Linked DNA regions of Homo sapiens. The protein of the gene in region 1 interacts with the protein of each later gene in a biochemical or structural test. Each region holds a gene or a part of one and is shown in the gene's direction. Other genes may lie near its edges.

Region 1 (7,968 bases):
ATCCACCGCCTCCCAGCTCCACAGCAATGTTGTCAACTATGTCCAGCAGATCGTGGCACCCAAGGGCAGTTAGAGGCTCGTGTGCATGGCCCCTGCCTCTTCAGGCTCTCCAGGCTTTCAGAATAATTGTTTGTTCCCAAATTCCTGTTCCCTGATCAACTTCCTGGAGTTTATATCCCCTCAGGATAATCTATTCTCTAGCTTAGGTATCTGTGACTCTTGGGCCTCTGCTCTGGTGGGAACTTACTTCTCTATAGCCCACTGAGCCCCGAGACAGAGAACCTGCCCACAGCTCTCCCCGCTACAGGCTGCAGGCACTGCAGGGCAGCGGGTATTCTCCTCCCCACCTAAGTCTCTGGGAAGAAGTGGAGAGGACTGATGCTCTTCTTTTTTCTCTTTCTGTCCTTTTTCTTGCTGATTTTATGCAAAGGGCTGGCATTCTGATTGTTCTTTTTTCAGGTTTAATCCTTATTTTAATAAAGTTTTCAAGCAAAAATTAAGTTACGGATTGAGTGACTATTAAATTTCTTCCACCAGAGGTCCTCACTGTGTTTGTTCAGGAAAGGTCACTGGGGGAGGCCCAGAGAATGACAGTATTTTCCTGTCCTCAGGGAACAGCCAGGGTGAAGGAGGTGGGTGTCCTACACATGCATATGAAAAAAAATATGGCAAAATGGCACAGCTGGTGCAGGAAAATGAAAAAGGAATAGCATTCCAGTTCTCCGTGAAGCAGCTGAATTCTCTATCTGCAGCAGCATTCCCATTATCTTTTCCATCACTAAGAAAAAAAAATGGGCTGGGCACGGTGGCTCATGCCTGTAATCCCAGCACTTTGGGAGGCTGAGGCGAGAGGATCGCTTGAGCCCAGGAGTTTGAGACCACCCTGGCCAACATAGCAGGACTTCATCTCTACCAAAAAAAAAAAAAAAAAAAAAAAAAAGCCAGGCGTGGTGGCTCACGCCTGTAATCTCAACACTTTGGGAGGCTGAGGCAGGCAAATCACTTGAGGTCAGAAGTTTGAGACCAGCATGGCCAACATGGTGAAACCCCATCTCTACTGAAAAAAAAGATAGATGCAAAAATTAGCCAGGCATGGTGGCTCACACCTGTAGTTCCAGTTACTTGGGAGGCTGAAGCAGGAGAAACACTTGAACCTGGGAGGTGGAGGTTGCAGTAAACTGAGATCATGCCACTGCACTCCAGCCTGGGTGACAGAGTAAGACTTCTCAAAAAAAAAAAAAAAAAGCTGGGCGTGGTGGTGCATTCCTGTGGTTTCAGCTACTCAGGAGGCTGAGGCAGGAGGATCACTTGAGCCCAAGAGGTCAAGGCCACAGTGAGTCTTGATTGTGCCACTGAACTCCAGCCTGAGTGACAGAGTGAGACCCTGTCTCAAAAATAAAAATAAAGTGTCTTATGACTTTTTATCTACCCTTCTGCCCATGCCCAAGGCTTCACTGGGCCTCACCTGTCTTTGATCCTAGATAACTATTTGAATGGTAATCAGTAAAGTCTTTAGAACTTAGCACTAAATTCTGATTTCCTGGCCTCAACATGGGGACCTAAACAGTTAGCAATCTGGGTTTGGGAGTGGGATGAGGGGAGGGTTGGAAGAAATATTTAGTGTGTTTCATTTGCCTTTCTTAAATACAGGGCACCCCTGAAACAGGCTTTGTTCGCAGCTCTGCTCTGTCCTCGGATTTAGGTTATCGAACAGGCTTCCTCCCTCCCCTGCACAAGGGTTGGGAATGAGTCGATTTGCTTTCACTCAGCAAGAGCAAGGGACTAGTGGTGACCAAGTGGTAGACTGGAGAGGCCTCTGCCCCGTGGCACACAGCTCCACCATCAGAGAGGGTGATGTGGGTCATAGGTGAGGGATCTGGAGGCCCGGTATCGGAAGAGCTTCTCCAGGCACTGGCATTTTGACAGCAAACTGCTTCCGTGGCTCTTTCAGGACTGTTCCTGGCAATATGTTATTGGCAAGGACTATTTTAGGGCTATCCAGTTGTCTCCCCCTCTCCCCAACCTTTTATCTAGCTTATCAGTAGCTATCTTTCCTTGCTCTGTACAAAAACCTATAGCACCAATAGGCCCAGTAATCATGAAGGGTCAGTGCAAGGAAAGGCTGGAAGCCCTTCCTCTAACAGCCGTGCTGTGACTCCACTAACTTTGTGGGGTCTCCCATTACATAGCGTGGGTATCCTGAGCTGTGCAGCCTGCCTCACTCACCACCTTGGTACCTGACAGGACTACTGGATGTGCCTGTCCTTTTGTAGGACATTCTCCCATCCCAAAGATGAGGCTGTGCTGCCGTGTGGGCAAGCTCTGTGGGGAGAGGGGAGGCCAGTGGGTTGTTTTTGCCATCACAGAATACTGGGAAGCCCCTGGCATCCTGCTCCATAGCTCTCTTCACCACTATCCTGGAACCTTCTCCCCACCCCCATCCCCATGCCTCCAAGGCACTGACCTCAAATCCAAGTCTTTCTCACTTATCTCAAGCTGCCAGCCTGTAGGGATTCCTTATCTCAGCTCCATGTCAGCGGTGAGGAAGCCCCAAGAAGGCAAGGGAGCTGACAGCCTTCTCATTTTTCTCGTACATCCTCCTGTTCACCCCGCCATCCCGGGAGCCCCAGCCAGATGCTCTTCAGGGCAGGGAGCACGTGAGCAGCCCTGGGGCTAGAAGCCGGTTCTCCCACATTCCTGGGTGAGGGACTGGGTGGAGGGTGTGCCTGCCTCAGGCTCCTTGGGGGAGGCCCCCTGAAGGGCTGGGGAAAATCCTACTGAGCCCCAGGCTCTCCTGCCTGCACTGGCCCAGTGCGGGGGCGGGGGGGCGGGGGGATCCTGGACATTAACTCTCTCCTAGGCACCTGGGAGCTTCAGAGAGGAAGAAGGTAAGGTAAGAAGCAGATTCTCTGCGCAGGACTTTCTTAGTCCTCAGGCTATAGAGTTAAAGAAAGAAGTATCTGTAGAAGGTGGAGTCACCTTTTGTTTGAGTAACCGTTTCACCCACCCTGGCTGAGGGTGGCCAGGAACTCCCCAAGTTGTGCATTAATGGAGGGGGGTCACACAGATCCTACATTTTTTTGTTTTTGTTTTTTTTTTTTTGAGACGCAGTGATTACAGGTGTGAGCCACCGGATCCTACATTTCAAATGCATAAAAATCTAGATATGGGCTGGGCGCAGTAGCTCATGCCTGTAATCCCAGCACTTTGGGAGGCTGAGGCAGGCAGATCATGAGGTCAGGAGATCGAGTCCATCCTGGCTAACATGGTGAAACCCCGTCTCTACTAAAAATACAGAAAGCCGGGCATGGCAGCGGGCGCCTGTAATCCCAGCTACTCGGAAAGCTGAGGCAGGAGAATCGCTTGAACCCAGGAGTCAGAGGTTGCAGTGAGCAGAGATCACGCCACTGCACTCCAACCTGGGCGACAGAGCGAGACTCCACCTCAAAACAAAATAAACAAAATACTAGATCTGGAAGAGATCTTAGGGATTATTAAATTCAGACAACCTCATTTTTTATAGATGGGGAAACAAGCACAGACTCCAAGGGTCTCATCCAAGATCACACAGTTGCAGATGCTGGCTACAAGTCTCCTGCCTCAACCACCTGTATTACCCCATTCAGGGTCTCAAGAAGGGTCTATAAGACACTATCCATTGTGTTTCGGGCTGAGTCCATAGAGACAACCACAGACATGGGGGACTCTGCCCACAGGGAAGGCAAGGGCTCTGGCCATGGAGCTGGATGGGAAGACTCTGAAGCCCGAAGACATTGAATCCTGTGCAGGGAAAGAGCGAGGGTTTTGTGTACAACACACCTGCATACCTGGATGTGAATCTCAGCTCCACCCCTTCACCAACTCTGTGTGGCCTGGGCAAGCCATTCTAAGGGAACCCTCCACACTGCAACTTTCATGTCTATAAAATGGGAATAACCATGCATTCCTTACAGGACTTTTTTGGTGTGAGGATTAAATGAGAGAATATGTTGAAAAGTGCTTGGTAAATATATTAATACTATGCATTCCCTCTTCTTTGAATGACGTGACCCAGGTAGTCAGGCTTCTGACCACTAGAGGGCAGCAGAAGGTACTGGAAAACTGGGCCGAGTGAACCAGAGATTAGATGGGGTCCAGAGAGCAGGGATGAACTTACCCGTGTGGATTCTGGCAACTCCGGCAGGGAGGGCTCCAGCAGGCGCTGAGGGAAGAACTTTCAAGCAGAGCCGGGTCTCTTCAGGAGCGACTGCAGCAACCCTGATGCTTGGATGGAGTCCAGGCAGGTGATGGTAGTGAAGACCTTGCCAACAGAGTGGGCGCTGGAGAAGGAGCCCTTTAGTGGGGACCCTGGGGCCACGACTAGGCTGGCAGGCCCAGCCAGCACCAATTAATCCATGAGTATTGCCCAGCATTGAGCCTGGAGCACCTTCCAGCCCCTGGCCAGAGTCCTGGGTGTTCTGGGAAAAACCCCTAAACCTAGTAACTCCTCTCCCTACTAGGCCTCTTTGTTGCTGAATCTCTGGAATTTAGGGGCCAGCAGCTTTCTGACTCAGGTCAGCCAGGGGTTCATGTTCCCTCACTTGCCCTCCCCCTGCCTGGCCCATCTCTGGCCTGGCCCCTGGGAGGAATTTCCTGGGCCAGAGGGCAGCCGAAAGCACAGATGCCCACCCCAGCAACGTTCCCGCCACCTGCCCAGGCCAGTGCCCCGTGCCCAACCCCAGAGGGTGCGGGATGACAGACTCTGACAATCATTAAACCAGCCGGGCCTGATTTCCCAGCACTGCCTGCTAAGATCCGGGCCAAGTGGCACTGAATATGCAAATCACCTGGGGCCAGGAGCCCAGTCTAAAGGCCAGGAAATCCCCTCCATCCAATGAGACACCAGCTCAGGTTACTGCAGGGGACACACTATAAAGCCCTGAGCTCAGGGAGGAGCTCCCTCCAGGCTCTATTTAGAGCCGGGTAGGGGAGCGCAGCGGCCAGATACCTCAGCGCTACCTGGCGGAACTGGATTTCTCTCCCGCCTGCCGGCCTGCCTGCCACAGCCGGACTCCGCCACTCCGGTAGGATTCCCCGCCTGTCATTCCCTAGCCCAGCTCTTGGGAAACTGCAGAGGGGTCCAGAGGATTTGCAGTTCTGAACCTGCACACTCCAGTCTAGGATCTCCGAGCAAGAGCGTAGGTGTCCTGAGGGTCAAAGAACAGAGAGAGATTGTCTCTGGGAAGGCAGAATGGCCATGACGCCGCTAGTCTGGCTCCAGGGCCCCAGAGATCTGAGGAGGGAAGCCCAGCTGGAGGCTCCTGTGGTCCTGCCCTGGTCTGAGATCTTGGAGCCCTTCTTGAAGAGACGGTGTCCGCAGAGTTGCTGATCTTCCTGCCCCTGGGGGCTACTCTTGCCCAGGGTTGGGCAAAGCAGAGTAGCTGGGAGTGTAAGGAGAGGACCCTCGTCCCCTCACCAACCTCATCCTCTCTCCCCCTACCCACAGGTAGCCTCATGGCTGCAACCTGTGAGATTAGCAACATTTTTAGCAACTACTTCAGTGCGATGTACAGCTCGGAGGACTCCACCCTGGCCTCTGTTCCCCCTGCTGCCACCTTTGGGGCCGATGACTTGGTACTGACCCTGAGCAACCCCCAGATGTCATTGGAGGGTACAGGTGGGTCTCAGCGGGGTGGGATGGGGCACGGAGTGGGAGACAGATCCATCTAAGGGCCTGTTAGACAAATGGGGGAATAGGCAGGGAGGAGGGTCTCTAGGCAAATTCCAGGGCTAGAGGCTGAGACTTAGTGACTGAGGTGCTGGGGGTTGTGGGGCTGTGACAGGCAGAGGGAGGTGTCAGATACCAGGACAAGGGTGTTGTGAATGCTACCTCCTGCCCCTACTCTTGGGATGGCTCCAAGGGCTGAGGTGTGAATCCCCAGTGTGCTCCAGGAATGGGGCTGTGTGGGCTGGGAGTGGTGGCTCACGCCTGTAATCCCAGCACTTTGGGAGGCTGAGCTGAGCGGATCACCTGAGGTCAAGAGTTCGAGACCAGCCTAGCCAACATGGTGAAACCCCGTCTCTACTAAAAATACAAAAAAAAATTTATCCCAGCGTGGTGGTGGGCACCTATAATCCCAGCTACTGGGGAGGCTGACGCAGGAGTATCGCTTGAACCTGGGAGGTGGAGGTTGCTGTGAGCCGAGATTGTGCCATTGCACCCCAGCCTAGGTGACAGGAGTGAGACTCCATCTCAAAAAAAAAAAAAAAAATGGGGCTGTAAGGTCTGCTGGGTGGCCTGAGCTGAGCCTGTTTCCCTGCCTGGCCCTTGCAGAGAAGGCCAGCTGGTTGGGGGAACAGCCCCAGTTCTGGTCGAAGACGCAGGTTCTGGACTGGATCAGCTACCAAGTGGAGAAGAACAAGTACGACGCAAGCGCCATTGACTTCTCACGATGTGACATGGATGGCGCCACCCTCTGCAATTGTGCCCTTGAGGAGCTGCGTCTGGTCTTTGGGCCTCTGGGGGACCAACTCCATGCCCAGCTGCGAGACCTCAGTGAGTCCAGGCCCCTGGAGGCTGGGGAGCAGCTCCACATGTTGAGCTGAGTCGAGTTCAGTGTGGCCGTAGGCAGGCCCTGGAGCTCTGGGCCAGCTGCACAGCCAGAGAGAGCCCTTGAGGGAGGGATTAGGGGAGTGTGACCCTTCCTTCCTTCCTTGTCAGCTTCCAGCTCTTCTGATGAGCTCAGTTGGATCATTGAGCTGCTGGAGAAGGATGGCATGGCCTTCCAGGAGGCCCTAGACCCAGGGCCCTTTGGTGAGAACCCGTTTTCTCCTTCCTTCCCCAGCCTGTCTTGTCCCATCCCTGCCCCTCCACAGAGTGCTAGAGATGACCCCCTCCCCAGACTTCTTCCTCCCTCAATTAGAAAAATTGCAGCAGGTCATCAGACCCATGGGCAGCATCACCTGTCCTGGTCTGGTCCCCTGAGCCCTCTCTGAGTTCTCACCTCCTCTTCCCAGACCAGGGCAGCCCCTTTGCCCAGGAGCTGCTGGACGACGGTCAGCAAGCCAGCCCCTACCACCCCGGCAGCTGTGGCGCAGGAGCCCCCTCCCCTGGCAGCTCTGACGTCTCCACCGCAGGTGAGAGCTCTCTCTGGGCCACAACCTCCCTTCCCCGAAGTGTCCCTTGTTCCCTCTGGCTCCCAGCACCATAACTCAGGCCTTCTGGCAGGAACAGGAACAGGCTGGGAAGTGTGTCCTGAGAGCCAGCAGCGTGGTTGAGCAGAGGGTGGGCCGGCAGGGGACTTACTCTGACCCCGCCCCCCAGGGACTGGTGCTTCTCGGAGCTCCCACTCCTCAGACTCCGGTGGAAGTGACGTGGACCTGGATCCCACTGATGGCAAGCTCTTCCCCAGCGGTGAGTCGAGGGAGGTCCCCAAGAGGGCGTCCCATTTAGCAATGCACAGGGGGCCCGGCTCTTCCTGCAGCCTTTTCCTGTAGAGGGGCTACTCTCCCTAACTCCCCTCTTGCCCCTCCTTGACCTTCCACCACCGTCCCCACAGATGGTTTTCGTGACTGCAAGAAGGGGGATCCCAAGCACGGGAAGCGGAAACGAGGCCGGCCCCGAAAGCTGAGCAAAGAGTACTGGGACTGTCTCGAGGGCAAGAAGAGCAAGCACGGTGAGCTCCGGGGGCACGTGGGTCCTCCCTGCGCCGGGCTGAGCGGCTTCCTGGGGCACTGCGGGTTGTTGCAGGTATCCCTTCTCCCGTTTTCTCTGGCCTCCGCATGGCCTTTGGTAAGGCTGTGCACAAGCTGGGGGCTCTATGGTATCGGTCACCACCTAATTGCAGAGCCTGGCTTGGTGGTCCTGGAGAGGAGGAGGAAATAAGGCTCCCAGTGGGAGGCTCATGGTACCAGAGTCCTGTCCACTGACTCCAGTGTCCTGTCCACTGACTCCAGTTCTCTCTGCACTTGGCCACTGTCCTGCCCTCT
Region 2 (4,041 bases), on another chromosome or scaffold:
GTTATTGAAACTGCAGGTCACAACCATTAGTAGTGAAACTAGTTTAACAGGATCCAAGAGCAATTTTAGAGGACTTAGTTTGCCAGTAATGAATTTAGGGTGGGATGTATTGAATTGGAGATGCAGAGGAAACGCCCATCATGAAGGTTGAGAAGAGGTTAAGGATGGAGAAGTACATTTGAGATCTTACAGTGCAGAGGAGCTAATTAAAATCATGAGAATGGATGAAGTCAGTCACTTCTAACAAAATGTCGCAAACAAGGAAAGGACCCAGGAGTAGAACCTTAAAGCAAGAGCTACCAAATGGAACTAAGAAAGTATAATCCAAAGGATCCCTAGGAGTGGAGTTATCCCAGACATCGAGAGATGGTGTCTAGAAAGGGGATTGTTTATCTCTTGATTTTAAGAGAAATTACTTAACTATGAAGAGAAATTTTATTTAAGCCTTGTCAGGGGCATTTTGTAGCACTATAGATTCTTTTATAAATGCAAGCCATATCATATCTCATGTGCATAGAGGTGTATATGGTATATGACAGTTCTACAGCAAAGACAGTATCCCCCGGTGCTAGTGTTGTAATGGAGCCCAGCTGCATCATGCTGAATTACTGAATCACTTGATCACTTAAATAATTTTACATTATTTGTTAAATAGATTGGTGTGGCGTTTTATGACATGCTGCTGAATGTTGACCAGTGTAGCACCCATTTAAATTACATGGATCCCATCTGTGACTTCCTCTATCACATGAAGTATATGTTTACTGGTGACAGCGTGAAAGAGCAAGTAAGTTGAATTTGTTTAATTATTTTTAATGATGTTTAATTTAGAAAACTTGAACATATAGTAATAGACTTTTTTGGTTTGGGTGATTATTTTTATTTTGTCTAATTTTTTCTTTTAAGGAAAAAGGGTGGGTATGAGACCTTTTTAGGCATCAGAGGCATATTATTCTAGATGTAGTATTAAAGGAAATACATGTTATAATTTCTTGTACTTTTCCCCCTTGATATTTGCAACAGAAAATCTGAAAAAGACCTAGAGGGTTAATTAATAGTAATCTCATTAGGGAGAAACAGTGGGATATGGCTGCTGAAATATGAGCAGAGAGGTTGTTGTGTTATGAGTAAAGGAGGTCCTGCTTCTCCTGACACTCATGGTGACAGTAGACAAACCGCGGCATAACTAGAAGACTAAAGTCAGGATTCTAGACTAATCCTGACTAGAGACTAACTCATGAAAAGCATTTAGAGAATATGGGAATGCTTATCCTGAAGAAAAAAGTCCTAGGGAATTATTTATGACCTCAGCATTTTGGAGGGTTTTCATTTGGAATAGGTATTAGATTCGTTCTGTGTCACTTTAGAGGGTGTATGAATTCTGGTAAAGTTAAAGGGAGGCCACCCTGACTTAGCATATGAAGAGGAACTTCCTAATGGGGATGTCTGAAAGTAGAAAAAGACCTTGAATCATAACTGAGTTTCCTACGTGTAGGAAACAGAATCTGGGCCATTTTAAAGGAGTGGAGGTAGGACAGATAGGGAAAGTTAAGTCCATCCTCCTACCCCTCCCAGTACTTTAGGTTGAGATGCCAAGGAGGTTGACTCCTTTATGTCTCAGCAGCAGTGTCAAAGAGAGTTGACCTGTTCTCTCTCATGTAAGAAAGAGAGAAATTGTATCTGCTTTTGTTACAACACAGAACATGCAGAGAAACTGTAAAAGAAATTGTTTATTTGTTTGTTTTTTTAAAAAAAGTATTCTTTACATTTAGGCCTAAGAAACTTTAACACAAGGGAGTACAGAAAGGAAAAGGTCAAAGAGCATTTGAGTAAAGCTAAGAAAGCTGTGAAACGACTTGATGTGTTTGTCTCCTTAGTGTTTTTCAAAAGAGTAGATCTAATATTATTTAGTTAATTCCAAGTGTAAATCAAAACCAAAATAGTTTTATAGATAAATGTTGCAAACATGAGTTATTCAAAGAACTTTATAATTATGCTTCATGCTTCTGTAAAGATGGCATTTTAAAAGAATGATCAACTTGTTGGATGTATAAAATTTCCAGTGTAAACTCTGCTAGCTTTTGGTAGTGGGATGACTGGCTAGCTAGATGAGTGGATACGCCTTTGTAAGTATATGCATATATATGAATATACATATGGTACATGTACAGACATGCACATATAATATATAAGGGGTGTGTGTGAGGGAGAACGTATTGTTTCTCATGCAAGAAAGAAATCATTGTATCTGCTTTTCTTAAAACACAGAACATGTTAAGAAACTTCTCATCTACCCCACGACACTCCTTAGTTTATTGTCTCCGGATATGTGTAAATCCTGCTTTAAATGTGAGAAGTTGAAATTCTCTGATTAAAGTACGTTTTAATGTGTTTTTATTTCTTAGGTAGAGAAGATTATCTGTAACTTAAAACCAGCTTTAAAACTTCGTCTTCGATTCATCACACACATTAGCAAGATGGAGCCAGCTGCAGTGCCTCCACAAGCCATGAACAGTGGGTCTCCAGCACCTCAGTCTAATCAGGTGCCCGTGTCTTTACCAGTAACTCAGTGAAGCCAGACTGTACTGTGGAGAAAGTAGAAATATATCCGTCTTTGAGAGTGGACTCAAACCTTTTAAATCTGAATGCGATCACACTGTAGTGATATAGTAGAAGCAGTGATGATATTCAGATTGTTTTATTTTGATTCAAATGATGAATCTGTTGACACCTTATAACTCCCATCTCCCTATCTATATTTTTGTCTCTAAGAGATCAAGTAAGATACATGTTGTTCATATTCATAACAACTTATTAGAGCTATGTAGGAACATAGAGGTATCTGTGATCAAATGACTTGTCATTGGCACTTTCAGTCTTTCCTATTCTAGCCGTTGTTTTTGTTTGTATTTTTTATTATTAATGACATATTTAGTCTTCAGATATATTATTTTAAAGGCACCACACATGTAAAACAGTTATTACAAATATTTTATACATAAATCTCTTGGTAGATTTTCAGAATAATAGAGATTTATATCAAGAAAAGGAATCTAGATTTTGTTGCATTGTAGGAGCAAACAAGGCTTCATATTCTTTTTAAAATGACTTGAAATTTTATTATAAATTTCCATAGTTTCTATCAAGGTCAACTGGCAGTTTTATTACCTTTGCTATGGACTTGAACTTACTGTATAAAATTAGTTGGAAGCCATGTAAGAAAATAACATCTGAAAATTCTTGAACTTAAAATCATGCTTAAATGGTTGATTCTCCAATTTCTTTTTTTAAAAATAAGTTAATTGCTTTTGCAGGTTGACACTCTCACCTGACAGATGATGTAATTCTTCAATTTTTATAATCTTAAAATTTTTAAATTTTATATTTGTAAATACAGTACACATTTTATTTCTTGGATTTTGAGAGACATTGTTAATTTTGGGGGAATTGGCATTGCGAAAGACTTGAAAACTAATGAGTAAAGTCTGCTGAATGAATAAACCGTGTGATTGTTTCCCGACTCCATTGGAATGAGTGTCGGCTGTGTGCCAGGTGGTGTGCTGGCTGGGGTCAGTTGGAAATGGGGTACTCTGTGGTTCCTACACTACAGTTGGTGACTGACATTGGCCTAGGAATTAAGAGTTACAGATTCTTTTAAAAAGAACTAGTGAATTTAACCAACTGTATTTCAAATTCATATTTCTAAATACATTCCTCCTAGAACTTTATTTTCTTTGTAGCTCATGTAATTGCCATCACTAAATCATTACTGGCCATGCAAGTCCAGCTAAAAATTTATATAATGGTAAAAGTAATTTTTGCAGACTTACTCTTTTCTTTTTTTTTTTTTTTGAGACGGAGTCTCGTACTGTCACCCAGGCTGGAGTGCAGTGGCATACTCTGGGCTCACTACAAGCTCCACCTCCCGGGTTCACGCCATTCTCCTGCCTCAGCCTCCCTTGTAGCTGGGACTACAGGCGCCTGCCACCACGCCTGGCTAATTTTTTGTATTTTTAGTATTAGTAGAGACGGGGTTTCACT
Region 3 (7,030 bases), on another chromosome or scaffold:
CCATCAAGTCATCCCCTGAGAAGCTGCAGTTAAACCACATGTTGATAGTTTATATTACAGGTCCATTCTAGTGTACCCATGGAAGAAATAATACTATAAAGAAGTCTTCCCATTTATTGAATACCTATTTTTGTGCCAAGTGCTTTTACATGTTTTAACTGTTATCTTCATGACTGCTCTATATGGAAAATAGTAACTCCATTTTGCACACAAAAGGCATCAAAGTTCAGAAATGTTCGTACTCACTGAAGGCACACAGAAGTTAGTGGCAGAACAAGAATTTGAAGCAGGTCTCCTGCAGAAAAGCTAGATGCTCTCATAGTATCTGTCAGATAACATAGTTGAACCTGAAAGAGGGTGATCAGGAATGGTACACTGGATAACTCCCACACTAAAGAATGTGAGTCGACAACACGTCTTTATGATTTGCTTTGTTCATTAGCATTAGGAAAAAACTGCTCTGTTTTCAAGAACTTTAAAAATTCAGCTTTCCTGCAATTCATAGAAGAGCTTTATTTCATTTTTCTCCTTTACAAATAAGCAAAATGAGATTTAAGATTTTAGAAGTATACTAAAAATGATTTTTAGAAATGAGTTTAGAATATCTCCAAAACATGGTATTTATGATATGACCATTTTTAAAAGAATTTTAAATTATTATTTTTCTTTTCCTTTTGCAGCAAACTTGTCTCTTACCTTTATCTGACCTACATTGGAATAGCGAATTATCACTAAATACATTTTACTGAGAAAAATCTGATGTTTTTGCATTTATCTTAGGAACCATGGACACTGAATCTAAAAAGGACCCTGAAGGTTGTGACAAAAGTGATGACAAAAACACTGTAAACCTCTTTGGGAAAGTTATTGAAACCACAGAGCAAGATCAGGAGCCCAGCGAGGCCACCGTTGGGAATGGTGAGGTCACTCTAACGTATGCAACAGGAACAAAAGAAGAGAGTGCTGGAGTTCAGGGTAAGTGAGCACACAAATTACGTTCTGTTGGTTGGCTGGGGAGGGGTCAGTCCTAGGTGCAGAAAGATATCTGCTAATCTAAAGATGATATATCAATATCTAGTTTAGTGTACTCTTCAAAGTTCTGTATGCCTTTGGAAAAGCATATGTCAGATCATTTTATTCACACTGGGATTTCCATTTTTGCTCTGTTATCTTTGAATGTAAAGGACAGAAATTTATATGTACATTCTCCAGTCATAATCATGCAGTTTTAGGGTATTGTGAGAGATAATCAACTTCTTTTCTGGCACAGATAAATAGAGAAGTATTTCCACAAGCTTAATAGTCACCCTGTCTAGATTCTGGCTTAACCGTCATACTGAAATAGAACTTTGCCTTAAAATAGGAACTTTTCTTTTTATCTTGTGCCCTCTTTGAAGAAGTAGGATTAGGAGAAAATGTACTTTTGCGTTTACTGTGAACCAATACTTATTAGCATATGTGTCATGATTCTAGGTCATCCTAGATCGTACTAAGAAGACGTCTATAAAAGCAAAGGTAGTAAATATTTAGAGTTGGTGGCCACATGTGGTGTCTATCACATATGCTTTTTTTTTACACCCCTTTAAAAATGTATAAGCCATGATTAGCTAGGGAGCTATATGAAAAGCAGGCCATAAACAGGTTTTGGCCCAAAGGTCACAAATGCCATTCCCTGACCTTAATGGAACAAACTTTACAAAAACGTGAGTGGCTCATTGAACGTCTCTGTTTATGGCAGAGATGTGTGTTTTTTCACACATTGCCTAACAAGCTAATTGTTAGAGATTCCAATGAAGGATTATTTCACCAAGATATTGGTGATTTAAAATCATGGTAAAATCTAACATTGTTTGGAGATTGTTTTCCTTAAAATAACAGATAATGGTCGTTCCCTTAAAATAATACATTTCTAAACTTTTTTCCTCTAACAAATCATACACAGATTCTTTAAGATCAATCTCTAACTATATTTGTCAGTGACCCAGTGTCCAATTCTGCTTTTTCTAGTCCACACAATCCAAAAGCATTGAAAGAACATTTTCAACTAAAATGATATGTCAAGGTGTCAGAACACTGATGCTGGTCAGTTTGTCCTTAAGCATGCCATACCCATAAAACAAAAGTAGGAACACTCAACTATGATTGTGGTCATTGCCTTACAGATAACCTCTTTCTAGAGAAGGCTATGCAGCTTGCAAAGAGGCATGCCAATGCCCTTTTCGACTACGCGGTGACAGGAGACGTGAAGATGCTGCTGGCCGTCCAGCGCCATCTCACTGCTGTGCAGGATGAGAATGGGGACAGGTAAGTCAGAACTTTTGCATGATAGGTTGTCCTGGGTGGGGAAGAAGAAGAGCATCGTATAATGCATACTGACTAGAGATAAAAATAATTGTTCAAATATATTGAGTCCTCTAACTGGAATGATGAAGAAAAATAATGTGTGAATAAGGTTAAGTAGCACAATTTGCTGCTCCATCCTGCTGCTGTCATCTGTTGGAATCTGTAGTAGCTGGAGGACTCATCTAAGAGTGAATCTCTCTGGGCAAGAAAACTAAGATGTGTGTAGGTAATGGTACTTTTTGAAAAGCCTTGCTTTGTTTATTGAAGTAATATTTGGAGAATTGTTAAGAGTCCTACCAAATCCCTGAAGCATTGTTATCCCAGCTGCATATTTATGACAGTGTACTCAAGAAAAAGCCCAATAAAGGCAGCAACAACAACAGAAAGATTAAGAGGGACTGGTCATTATTTCCCAGTTACTGGTTTCTTCTCTGCTCCCTCTTCTGATGGTCATCAGTCTATGACTGTTTCAGACTTTTGTGACTGCTCCAGCCCATATGTGGGAGTGGAACATTCCAAACACCATGCCTTCCATTCTTGCTATTACTGAGATTGTATTTGCAAAGCCACCTGGCTTCTTTCTAAAACAGTTCTCTTAGTCCTTTCATTGAGACTTCTAAAATGATCTCAAAAGCCTATAAAAATAACAAGAGACAGCAGCCTTCACATTCAAGTCAAGTGCCTTATCTAAAACCTTCCTAAAATAGCATCAACATAGAGAAATCCTTTTCTGTGGAAGAGCTCTTGAGTGCTGTGTTTTAGACTTCAGTTTAAAAATTAAACCAAGCACTTTAGGAAAGTAACAACCTCAGGGTTTCAAGCAGAGACACCTTTGTTCTCATTCCTTGCAACGTAACCAAGGATGTGGTATAACCACTGGCCTTGTTATACAGTATGAGAGGAACCAGTACAACCTTCTTGGTATAAAGCCATGAACAGCAGAATTCTTTTTCAGGGTTAAATAATCCAGTTAGCATTCAGTAGCATACAACCACAAGAAAAAGCAGTTAACCAAGACAGTACAGCAGTGTTTCAAGTGGCATTTCCAGGGACCTGTTAAATTGATAAGTCTAAGAAGATGAGCACATACAGGTTAGAAAGGAAGTGCTGATATCTGAAGGGAGGATTGTTGGAAGGGATACAAGGCGAGGCACATGCAAGTTCCCTCCTAAGACCCAAGCACACTCACACAAGCCGGCTCTCAGAGAGGCCACAGATTTGGGACTTGGAGAGACCAGAGGATCCTCATAAGAGCATAGGTATAGGGCAGCTTTTGGCCATCACAGCCCAAGTCTCTTGTTTTAATTCAGCTCGTCATATTTGGCTAATAGTTTAAATCCTGTGGCCATTAGTCATCATAGAAAATATAATAAAGAAAAATATATAAAACTTCTGCTATTGGGGAAATTCCCATAAGGGTGTGAGGATTTGAGGGGGAGGGGGAATGTACTTCTGCTATGAAATGCTGAGCGGCACATGGAAATTTTCGAGCAGTTTTAGAAGTATGACCTTTTTCTTGGTGTATGTGCATCATGTCTATGTCAGAGTTTAGGCCCTTTTCAGAAGTCTTCTTCCAGTATCACATTTCAAGAAGCAATAGTGAAACCCTGAGATCATCCGTTTTAAAATATTTCTCAAGTAGCAAAATCACAATTTAGTTTTTTAGGCTCTTCTGTGCCGGAGTTAATCCCAAGTACGATATACTTGCTATTGCTAAGGAAGAGGCTTGAGTAAAGTGGCACCTGATAGCTTATTTTAGAGAAGATCCAGCCTGTACCTCGTGTCCCAGATGTAGTGCTGCTGCGAGATGCTTTAGTGTGCTCTGCACCTCAATCTGTCCATGCTCTGGAGTGGTCATCTTCTTAGACATTCATCTGAATGTCTTTAGAACAGTGCACATGTATCCCCTATGCAGGATTGCTTAAGGGATTAAGAGATGGCTTTGGAGTAAGACAGGCCTGGGCTTGAATCCCAGCTTCACCACGTATTGGCCTTGACTGAGTTATATGACGCCTGCAAGTCTCAGTTTCATTAGCTGAAAAGTGAAGATAATATTACCTAACTCATAGGATTATTGTTATAGTAAAAAGACAATATATATCAAATGCTTAGCATAGTCTGGTAAATCAAAGCTCCCAACAAATAGTAGCCACTGGTAAAATGATTGTTATTGTTATTGTTTTGAATTTTAATAGTATGTTTTTTAATAATTAAAAGAATTACGCTCCTGTGAGTGACTTTGACACCACCAGTATGTTCAGCCTCATTAGCGTAAGCTCTTAAGTTCCTTCTATCATTCTTATTTTTGTGCCTCTACTGCATGCTAGGGTTGTAAGGCTGACTCAGACAGAACCTGCCCCAGAGATGACAGGACAGAGAACGAGAAAAATGTGTAGAAAACTGCAGTTGCATAACCAAGCAGTAAATTTGAGAGGGACAACTTGCTCCACCTAGGAGGTTAGGAAAGTATTCTCTGAGGATGTCAGGTTTGAACTGGAATATAAAGGATGGAGTAGGCATTGTTCAGGCAGAAGAAAGGAGCAAAAACATTCCAGGCAGAGGGAATATTTGCTGGAATGTTTGCAGGAGTGGTGGGAAATACAATCACTTTGTTTCTTCACAAGTTTACTGCAAGAATTTTCTTCCAGTAGTTAAAAGCTTCACTCCATTCTCCACTCTTGGGATCTGGAAAGATCTTTAAAAAACCACCACACTGTATTTTGGAGGAGGGCAGCAGGGCTAAGTGAGGTAACTAAGTTTTTCTGAACAATTCCTAGTGCCAGGCATTCATTTTACATAGAATCTGTGTGTCAGGAAAAGTCAGGGGGAAAGGTAGAGAAGAAAACCGCCCAAAGCCATGGTATAGAGGCAGGATTGGGATTTAAGCTTAGGTCTTTCTGGGCTGGAAGCCTCAGTGTGTTTATACATCAAGGGGTCAAGACCTGAATGCTCCCAGAGGCCAGGAAGGTACCACAAATAACGTAGCAGCCTTGGGTAGGCAGTTGGGAGGGACCAGTCCTCTGGAGACAGCATCCCACCTCAGATTCAATGCATTTTATAGATTCAAAACATTTTAGGGCCAAATAAAACTAGGTATGAGAGCAGATTCCATTCTTGAGTCTAATCACATCTTGGGAATCTTTTCTTTTTCATTAACATTTTAGTTAATTATTGCCACTGTGTTTTCATTCCAGTGTCTTACACTTAGCAATCATCCACCTTCATTCTCAACTTGTGAGGGATCTACTAGAAGTCACATCTGGTTTGATTTCTGATGACATTATCAACATGAGAAATGATCTGTACCAGGTAAGCAGAAATCTCAAGAAAACAACTGAAGAAAAATCTGTAGTTTACTTTTTCTTCTGTTATGTTTGGGTGCATGTTATTTTTAGTAATGTTAACAGTAGCAAAAACAAAAACAAACCTTTGTAGGTAATATCTAAAATCCCATTAGTTGAGAATGTTACTTTATGATGTAGGATCCTTTGATCTGTGGGTATAACAGCCATCAAGCCACAATGAAATTCAGCATCCCGCTGGGGGAAGGCAAACTTTAAACTTTAGAAATCAAACAGTTTTTTCATTTAAGAGGGAGAAACTAAAGTAAAAATGTCACATCTGTCAAGAAAAATAAAGTTAAAAAAAGTTTGAAAAGCCAGTAATTTATAATAATTTTGAAGTCTACTGAAACATACCTTGACAACATCCAGATTAAATGTATATCAAATGAAGCATTCTGAAATCACCACACAGAAAGGTTAAAAGTTTGCTTGAGGAGGAAAAGGTGTCTTTCAAAAGCAGAAAGACAGCTCCAAGTGAGGAAAAGTGGGAACACCAGAGTTTTGCCCAAATCAGGTTTTCTTAGGAATTAATTAGGTGGGCTGAAAATACAAGTTGAGGAACTGTTTTTTCCAGAGGTCTTCCAACACTGCAAAGGGAGAGTTAGCTGGAGACACAGCGAGGCCCTTTGATGGGCATATGCAGAATTCAGGGAGAGGCAAGGAGCCTGGGAGCCACTTCGGCAGAAGCAGAGCTTGGACGTTGGTGATGGGAGCCCAGTGACCCCAGCCAGCCTTTCTGGCTGAGCGACTGCACTGGCATGAAACCAAGATGGGGTTCGGCTCCTGAGGTTTCCTCCTTCCTGCCCCTGATTGCTTTTCCCACCTCACTGTCTTTCCCCTACTCCCACCAGTCTGCTGTATGGGGCTCCTGCCCTTGCCCACTTCTTACCTTTCCATTTGTCTCCTTCCCTTCATCGACCCGAAGCATCTTCCTCATCCTCCTTGGAGAGATGGTTTGCTGGTTCACGTGTATCTCTCACTCCAAAACTATGGCCAAAATCCTGTGTAATTATTTACTTAGTAAAGATATTTGTTCCTGCTCTCTCAGTTTTTATAGCAGTGATGTGAATCATTTCTATTTCCTCACTTTAAAGGAAAATGCTTTTATTATTTTAAAGAAAATTAATTAAAACTTCATTTTCTTTAAAGGAAATTAAAATATCTATTTTCTTATTTTTATTTCCATTCTTTAAAATGTGCTTTAGGCTGGGTGCGGTGGCTCACACCTATAATCCCAGCACTTTGGGAGGCCGAGGCAGGCGGATCATGAGATCAGGAGATCGAGATCATCCTGGCTAACATGGTGAAACCCCGTCTCTACTAGAAATACAAAAAAAAAAAAA
Region 4 (7,439 bases), on another chromosome or scaffold:
CACCAAGGCAAAATCACCTTCAGCTAAAAATGCCTGAAAGACTTTTTAAAATAGTGGGAGTGGGCGTTAGGGGGAAGAGATGGCCTAGGAAATTTTCCGCAGGGCGTTCTAGGGATGAGTTGAGGGAAGCCGCATGACGCGCGGCTCCCCGGTGCCACAGCTAAGGACAGATATTTTCGCAAAACCCAGAATGAAAAAAGAGCACGCTCCCTTTGGGAGCGCTGTCCCTTTGGGACTGGGGCCTTCCACTCCCACCCCTCCTTTTTCCCTGATCGGCTCCGCAGCTCCACGACAAGCCAGCTGGTCTGGTCTCTGACTTGGGCTCCGGTCCGTACCCCCGGGGCGCCCTGCTGTGTTACAGCCGCCCGACGCCCCCAGACCCGGCCAGGTCACCAGGGCAGATTGGAGGTTCGCGCCCCCTCACCCGACACCTCCCGTCCACCTCATCTTTCTTTTTTTCGAAAACAGGAAAGGGAAGAAAACTGAAACGGGCCTCTTGGTCTGCAGTTTTAGCGGAGTCGGGATTCCACAGCCCTGAGTGGCACATGCCGGTCAACTTCCCAAAGTCGGGCTCCCGTGTGGGGAGAAATACACACGCAGGAATGCACAAGCATCGCGTGTTCGCAACTGTCGCTGGGAGGTCTGGCGGCTGTGATGGGACATGCACTCACTCGGGCAACACGTCCACAGGTGACATCTATTCGATCAGTCAACAGATATTTATTGCGCACCTACGACGCTATCTGGTACTTTCCTTTTCCCCTTAGCTGTTGCTGTCCAGCCCAGCGCCAGTCCAGAGACGGGCTTACCGGCCGCTCCCTTCCACAAGAAACTCGTGTCCGGCGTGAAGAGCGGACGATAAACACTCTCCAAGCCCAGCGAAATGTACTAATTACAGGAGCGGCTGGGAGCCCGCGACACGGGGACCTGTCCCTCCAGGGATAGGAGTCTTCTACCTGCAAGGGACCCGGCCTGGGGAACTGGAATAGACAAGGGGTAACCCCTTCTCCCATCACCTCTAATGAGAACATTGTCCGGGGCTGAGATATTTGGGGGACGCCGCTGCTCACCCCACCAAACTTTCCCTAGGGACAGAAAAGCGTCCCTACCGAAAACGGATTTAAACACCGTCCCCACTTTTGCTAAGGAAGTTTGGATAGGGAGGTTGTGGTCCTTAATTCGCCAGGTAAAAGGAACCCCATCAGCTCGCATCCCTCACCCCCATCCTGAGCACTGAGTGTTTGCGAGAAACTCGCCCTGCGCCAGCAACTCTGGGCTCCGGTCTCAGCTCCCGCGTAGACGCGGAGGAGAGATTGGCGGCCCCCGCTGGGGAAATTGAGCCCGGCGCCGGTCCGGGACGTGCAAGAGGGGGAAAGGGGGAGATCCCAGACCTCGGTTTCCCGAGGGCTTCCCTGGGGAGCCACTCGCACCTCTGTGTCTCCGCTCCCGGCGGCAGACCTCGCGGCGCTTGCTCAAGAGCGGGTATCCGAAAGCACGTCCCGAACACGGAGAAGCGCCCTCCGTCTCCTGCCTCGTGACCTGCGCCCTTTCCCTCCCTCACCGCATCAGATGGAGGACCCTGGCTCCTTTCGCCCCTGGCAAAATGCTCTAGCCAACACTGGGTCAACAGCCTTAGTTTCCAGATCTGTAACCTGAACATCAGGAGCGGGTTCCTTTCCTTCTACCTGTGTCTGAGGTCCTCTGGTCGGGGACTGCGCGCGTCTTCCCAGGTCAGGGAGGAGGGGTCGGGGCGACCTGAGAAAGACACAACGAAGCGAATGGAGCCCCTGAATGGGGAAAGGGGAGTGGACACCAGGAGGCCCCTGCAGAAATGCAGGACCGATCCACTCGCGAGCTGACAATGCCACGCGCTAGACTTGGCCTGACGGTGGCAACGCTTGGCACCTGGGGGATAGGGGCCTTCTCCTGGCCTCAGTCCCCAAATTCTGCGCAGAATAGAACGGCTGGCATCTCAAGTGCTCTTTTTTCACCCGGATCTCTACAGACACAAGTTCCCTCACTGAGCTGCGCAGAGGTGGATCCGCACAGGAGGGAATATCGCGTAGGAATTCCTGCAAATATAAATCTCAGCAGCAAAGCAGTCCAGATTGACTGGAACACACCACCCCCAGCCACCACCATCCAAGTTTTCCCTGGTTCTCGGAGTTGGAAACAGTTTCTGGGCTTTTGGCGCCCCCTCTGGATACAGATGAAAACTGCAGTCCATTTTTAAGTCGCCTGTTCATAAGTTTTCAGGAAGATGTAAAATTCAAAAATGCTTGCATCAAATCAACGGGAAATGTATAAATCCCCGTCGTTTATGATGTAAAACTCTACATATTAGTATCTTATTGCATAATTGCATTAAAAGTATATTTATACATATACGTATATATCTTGACATATATTTAGTGAAATATTCCAAAATATCTTAAAGTCATAGCCCTCTTCACTGACTTTATTCCAGCAAACATGGTAATTACAATATCATACAACTAAGTACAGACGACCTGGCTAAAATGTCTGCCCGATGGTCTCCGAGTCTCCTGAATCAGGTGTCTGAGAATTACACAGTTATACTGTACACACAATGCCCTTCTACCCGGGACACAGAAATAGGTCCACACTACGCGGACTTTTTTCTCCTAGGAAAGGACGATGCTGTTCTTACACTTTCTGAAAGTAATCACAGAGCCCTGGATACGAAGCTATTGTATGCAAATCTCTTAAATTTGTAAACGAGCTATAGGGCACCAGAAACATCCCATTTGAAGAAGTTACATTCGTTAAAAAAAAAATGCTGTTGAACAAGGCTGTAACTTACTACCTTATGAAGAGTTCCATTTCCTATAAGAAATGTCGGGCTTCTTCCGAAGACAACGAGAGAAAACAAGATTTTAAGAAATTCTCCCGGAAGGACATTGATTTGGATCTTGTGATAGTGTCCTCACTTCGCAAATTAGAAAGGGAAAAAAAAACTAGTTTTTATTATGATGTGGGCCGATTCACCACAACAATAATTTAATTGAGGCGAATTTTTGCAAGAGCCCAAAAGGGTGGGGGGGGGGGGGGAGTTTAAAATTAAGAGTTTCCCAATGCTGTGCGTTTATTTGGGATTCTGAAAGCACAGAACCCGCAAGCGACCAAGACTTTTCTTCTATCCCAGAGCAGATAGCTCCGCACTTACCCAACCTGGCTCTAAGCATTTCGTGTAAACACAAAGGTTGTGCTCAAATCACACTTGAAATACATGAGAGACACCACCAATGCCTCCCCCAGAACTCCCAACTACATGCAGGTCTGAACCGACCGGACTAGAGTCAGAAGCACCGGCGCTTCACCCCTTCAGGTGTTTCGTAAATGCCAGCAAAAGCAGGCAAGCAGCATGACTCCGCCAGAGTGGAGCGTTTTGTCTGCGGTGGTGCCCATTTGTTTGGTCTTTTACAAACCAAGTGACCGGCCTGGGCCTCGCGGCCCGGGACAGCCGCATTGGCAAACTTCTATCTCTCAAAGCCAGAGCAGTTAGCAAACTCTCCCCCAGACAGGGCGACTCGGCTGACGTTTTTGACCCGGCCAGGAGGCAAAGACCAAAACGTCAGAGCAGTAGCCCTGTTACTGAGGAGCGTCGGCAGGGTCGCGGGTAGAGGGGGCTGGAGAATGACTTGTCAGAGCTCAAGGTCGATGTGGCGCGGGGCGGCCTCGAGAGCGCCGGGCTCCTGCGTGGCCACGGCCGCCGCTGCCAACCTTCGCGGGGACTTAGCTTTGCTTTCCATTGACTCCCTTTGCAAAAGCGCAGCAGAATCCTGACCAGCCGCACCAGCCCCGGCGAACCCGAGCATGTTAATCTATTTATATGGATTATTACGGAGGAACAGCGGGCGTTGAGTCACCAAAACATTTGCTTCAAAAGACTATTTCTAAGCACTTTTGCAGGCAGGCAGGCTCGCTCCAGGCGCGTAAACTCGGCTACGCATTAAGAAGCGGCTGCTTTTCGAATACTGCAAACTCCAGCTAAGTCCCCGGTGCCGCGGAGAGAGCAGTGAAAAGAAATGTCGGAGGTGGGGGTAGATCCTAGTCTAGACACACACACTTGCGCGCACACACACACACACACACACAAGATTCGCGCGGAGAAGGCACTAAAATTCTGGCATTCCGAGAGTACGACAAACTTACACACTTGGAAGTCCCGGGTCCCCCGCCTTCCCCGCAGCACCCCCCGCCCCCCCACCCTACCGTCCGCCCTTTGGCTGCGATCCCCTCCCCTCTCCTCCCCTCCCGCCTCGTCACCCAGCCCAGTGCCACAATCCTCCTCCCTCCCCAAAATCGGGTCCAATCAGCTGCCTGCCAACCCTGGGACTGCTGTGCTGTGATTGGCGGGTGGCTCTAAGGTGAGGCGGAGTATTTATTAAAGAGACCCTGGGCTGGGAGTTGGAGAGCCGAAAGCGGAGCTCGAAACTGACTGGAAACTTCAGTGGCGCGGAGACTCGCCAGTTTCAACCCCGGAAACTTTTCTTTGCAGGAGGAGAAGAGAAGGGGTGCAAGCGCCCCCACTTTTGCTCTTTTTCCTCCCCTCCTCCTCCTCTCCAATTCGCCTCCCCCCACTTGGAGCGGGCAGCTGTGAACTGGCCACCCCGCGCCTTCCTAAGTGCTCGCCGCGGTAGCCGGCCGACGCGCCAGCTTCCCCGGGAGCCGCTTGCTCCGCATCCGGGCAGCCGAGGGGAGAGGAGCCCGCGCCTCGAGTCCCCGAGCCGCCGCGGCTTCTCGCCTTTCCCGGCCACCAGCCCCCTGCCCCGGGCCCGCGTATGAATCTCCTGGACCCCTTCATGAAGATGACCGACGAGCAGGAGAAGGGCCTGTCCGGCGCCCCCAGCCCCACCATGTCCGAGGACTCCGCGGGCTCGCCCTGCCCGTCGGGCTCCGGCTCGGACACCGAGAACACGCGGCCCCAGGAGAACACGTTCCCCAAGGGCGAGCCCGATCTGAAGAAGGAGAGCGAGGAGGACAAGTTCCCCGTGTGCATCCGCGAGGCGGTCAGCCAGGTGCTCAAAGGCTACGACTGGACGCTGGTGCCCATGCCGGTGCGCGTCAACGGCTCCAGCAAGAACAAGCCGCACGTCAAGCGGCCCATGAACGCCTTCATGGTGTGGGCGCAGGCGGCGCGCAGGAAGCTCGCGGACCAGTACCCGCACTTGCACAACGCCGAGCTCAGCAAGACGCTGGGCAAGCTCTGGAGGTAGGACCCGGCGGGGGCGGCGCGGCAGGGTGGGCATCGCGGCGGCTGGGGGCGCTGGTCAGGGCTGATTTGCCCCGCCCCGCCTCCCATCGCCCGGGAGTTGCCGTTCCGGGAGCCGGCGGGATGGGGTTGGGAGTGGGAATGGGGTGTAACTGTGGCTCAGAGTTTGACAAAGTTCTTGGGCTGCTCGCGGGGACGCGGAGGAGGGGGGTGGTAAGTGGAAGAGGTGAGGGAGGTAGCTGGAGGATGGACGAAGACTGGTGGGAGACGGAAGGAGGGGGCTGCCAGCCTGCTCTCCAGTCGCCTGGAAGCTCAATCGGGGCGGGGAAGTGAAACTTGCCTCCCTCCTACCCGGCCTCTTAAAACTGCACTCTCTCGTGCAGCCCCACTGTCCACGGAGATGGGGCAAGGGAGAAACCGAGGTTGGAGGAGACCCTTGGCAGGAACTGGGAGGCGGGAGGAGGGAGGCTACTGGAAATAGGTGGGAGTGTATGGTGGGGGGTGAGAATTGGGGACCTTCTTGCAGCTTAAGTAATTTGGGGGAAAGTTTTCAAAGGGGGTTGGGGTTGGGGGCGGTAAGTCGAGCAGCAAAGGCGTTTAGGGGGCAGCACCGGGAGTCGTTTTCATCTCCAGCGTTTCCAAAATAGAAATAGAAGGGGAGGGGAGGGAGGGGGCGGGGAGTGACCGCTCAGGTCAGACTGCAATAACTTATTTATTTATTTATTTTTAAGAAAAGTTATGAGCTGTGGTTGCAGGCAGGAGGGAAGATGGAGTTGTGTGCAGAGGAAGCCGAGTGGTCTGGGTCGCCGCCTCCTCCCCGCCGACCTGACAGTTTGGCGGATTTCACTGACCCCTCTCCCTCTTTTTCTCTGTGCCCCCCGCCCCGCCCCGAGCAGACTTCTGAACGAGAGCGAGAAGCGGCCCTTCGTGGAGGAGGCGGAGCGGCTGCGCGTGCAGCACAAGAAGGACCACCCGGATTACAAGTACCAGCCGCGGCGGAGGAAGTCGGTGAAGAACGGGCAGGCGGAGGCAGAGGAGGCCACGGAGCAGACGCACATCTCCCCCAACGCCATCTTCAAGGCGCTGCAGGCCGACTCGCCACACTCCTCCTCCGGCATGAGCGAGGTGCACTCCCCCGGCGAGCACTCGGGTGAGTCGCCCCTCGACCCCACCGGACAAGCTATCTCCGTCCCGCCTGGCACACCCCCTGCCCTCCGCCTGGGAGATTCTTCGTGGGGACTTTATGCTTCCCGGGAGGGACACACTGCCCTTTGCGCCCGTCCCGCTCCCCTCTCTACCCAGAGCCTAAGAGGCATCCAAACAACACACACACAAACACACACACCCCAACTCAATCCCAGCATCCGAAGAGATTAACTTTTTTATTGGGAGGTAAAATGCCCTTAACAGCCTTACAAGACCTCTCCCTTCTTCTCTGCTCCCCCACCCCAAAAGCACACACAGGGCTCTTACACAAGTAGCAATTAGGTCTTCCGGACCCTCCGGGCCCCAGACCCTCCCCTGATAAAAGGGGGCTGTCCAGTGTGTACCGGCGGGTTAATCATTGGGCGACTTATCTCCGGTGCAGCGCGCCTCTTGCGCGGGTGCGGGCCCTTATTACACTTTAGCAGCGAGGGAGGGTCCCCGGAGGGTGCCTAAGACTAGGGCGTCTGCACAGCCCTTGTTGATTTTCTCGTGCTTGTTCTTTTATTGTCCACAGGGCAATCCCAGGGCCCACCGACCCCACCCACCACCCCCAAAACCGACGTGCAGCCGGGCAAGGCTGACCTGAAGCGAGAGGGGCGCCCCTTGCCAGAGGGGGGCAGACAGCCCCCTATCGACTTCCGCGACGTGGACATCGGCGAGCTGAGCAGCGACGTCATCTCCAACATCGAGACCTTCGATGTCAACGAGTTTGACCAGTACCTGCCGCCCAACGGCCACCCGGGGGTGCCGGCCACGCACGGCCAGGTCACCTACACGGGCAGCTACGGCATCAGCAGCACCGCGGCCACCCCGGCGAGCGCGGGCCACGTGTGGATGTCCAAGCAGCAGGCGCCGCCGCCACCCCCGCAGCAGCCCCCACAGGCCCCGCCGGCCCCGCAGGCGCCCCCGCAGCCGCAGGCGGCGCCCCCACAGCAGCCGGCGGCACCCCCGCAGCAGCCACAGGCGCACACGCTGACCACGCTGAGCAGCGAGCCGG

Evidence for each region.
Region 2: the proteins of ELF3 (region 1) and MED23 form a complex in vitro, tested with the Homo sapiens proteins (4 studies listed by BioGRID, with this or other methods).
Region 3: the proteins of ELF3 (region 1) and NFKB1 form a complex in vitro, tested with the Homo sapiens proteins (one study listed by BioGRID).
Region 4: the proteins of ELF3 (region 1) and SOX9 form a complex in vitro, tested with the Homo sapiens proteins (one study listed by BioGRID).

The regions. Positions count from the first base shown.
Region 1 is NC_000001.11:202,005,644-202,013,611, forward strand, and holds the start of ELF3 (ETS-related transcription factor Elf-3), read left to right. Parts: upstream 1-4,943; 5' UTR 4,944-5,063; exon of another isoform or gene 5,064-5,177; intron 5,178-5,485; 5' UTR 5,486-5,493; coding exon 5,494-5,656; intron 5,657-6,313; coding exon 6,314-6,535; intron 6,536-6,700; coding exon 6,701-6,793; intron 6,794-6,996; coding exon 6,997-7,116; intron 7,117-7,207; coding exon of another isoform or gene 7,208-7,257; exon of another isoform or gene 7,258-7,303; coding exon 7,304-7,393; intron 7,394-7,538; coding exon 7,539-7,655; intron 7,656-7,968. Other genes in the region: RNPEP (aminopeptidase B), read left to right, coding at 1-73. UniProt on the Homo sapiens protein: Transcriptional activator that binds and transactivates ETS sequences containing the consensus nucleotide core sequence GGA[AT]. Acts synergistically with POU2F3 to transactivate the SPRR2A promoter and with RUNX1 to transactivate the ANGPT1 promoter.
Region 2 is NC_000006.12:131,586,211-131,590,251, reverse strand, and holds the end of MED23 (mediator of RNA polymerase II transcription subunit 23), read left to right. Parts: intron 1-655; coding exon 656-787; intron 788-2,405; coding exon 2,406-2,573; 3' UTR 2,574-3,314; coding exon of another isoform or gene 3,315-3,332; 3' UTR 3,333-3,520; downstream 3,521-4,041. UniProt on the Homo sapiens protein: Required for transcriptional activation subsequent to the assembly of the pre-initiation complex. Component of the Mediator complex, a coactivator involved in the regulated transcription of nearly all RNA polymerase II-dependent genes.
Region 3 is NC_000004.12:102,595,358-102,602,387, forward strand, and holds part of NFKB1 (nuclear factor NF-kappa-B p105 subunit), read left to right. Parts: intron 1-780; coding exon 781-975; intron 976-2,162; coding exon 2,163-2,304; exon of another isoform or gene 2,305-4,378; intron 4,379-5,537; coding exon 5,538-5,652; intron 5,653-6,287; exon of another isoform or gene 6,288-6,674; intron 6,675-7,030.
Region 4 is NC_000017.11:72,116,587-72,124,025, forward strand, and holds the start of SOX9 (transcription factor SOX-9), read left to right. Parts: upstream 1-4,433; 5' UTR 4,434-4,805; coding exon 4,806-5,236; intron 5,237-6,132; coding exon 6,133-6,386; intron 6,387-6,956; coding exon 6,957-7,439. UniProt on the Homo sapiens protein: Transcription factor that plays a key role in chondrocytes differentiation and skeletal development.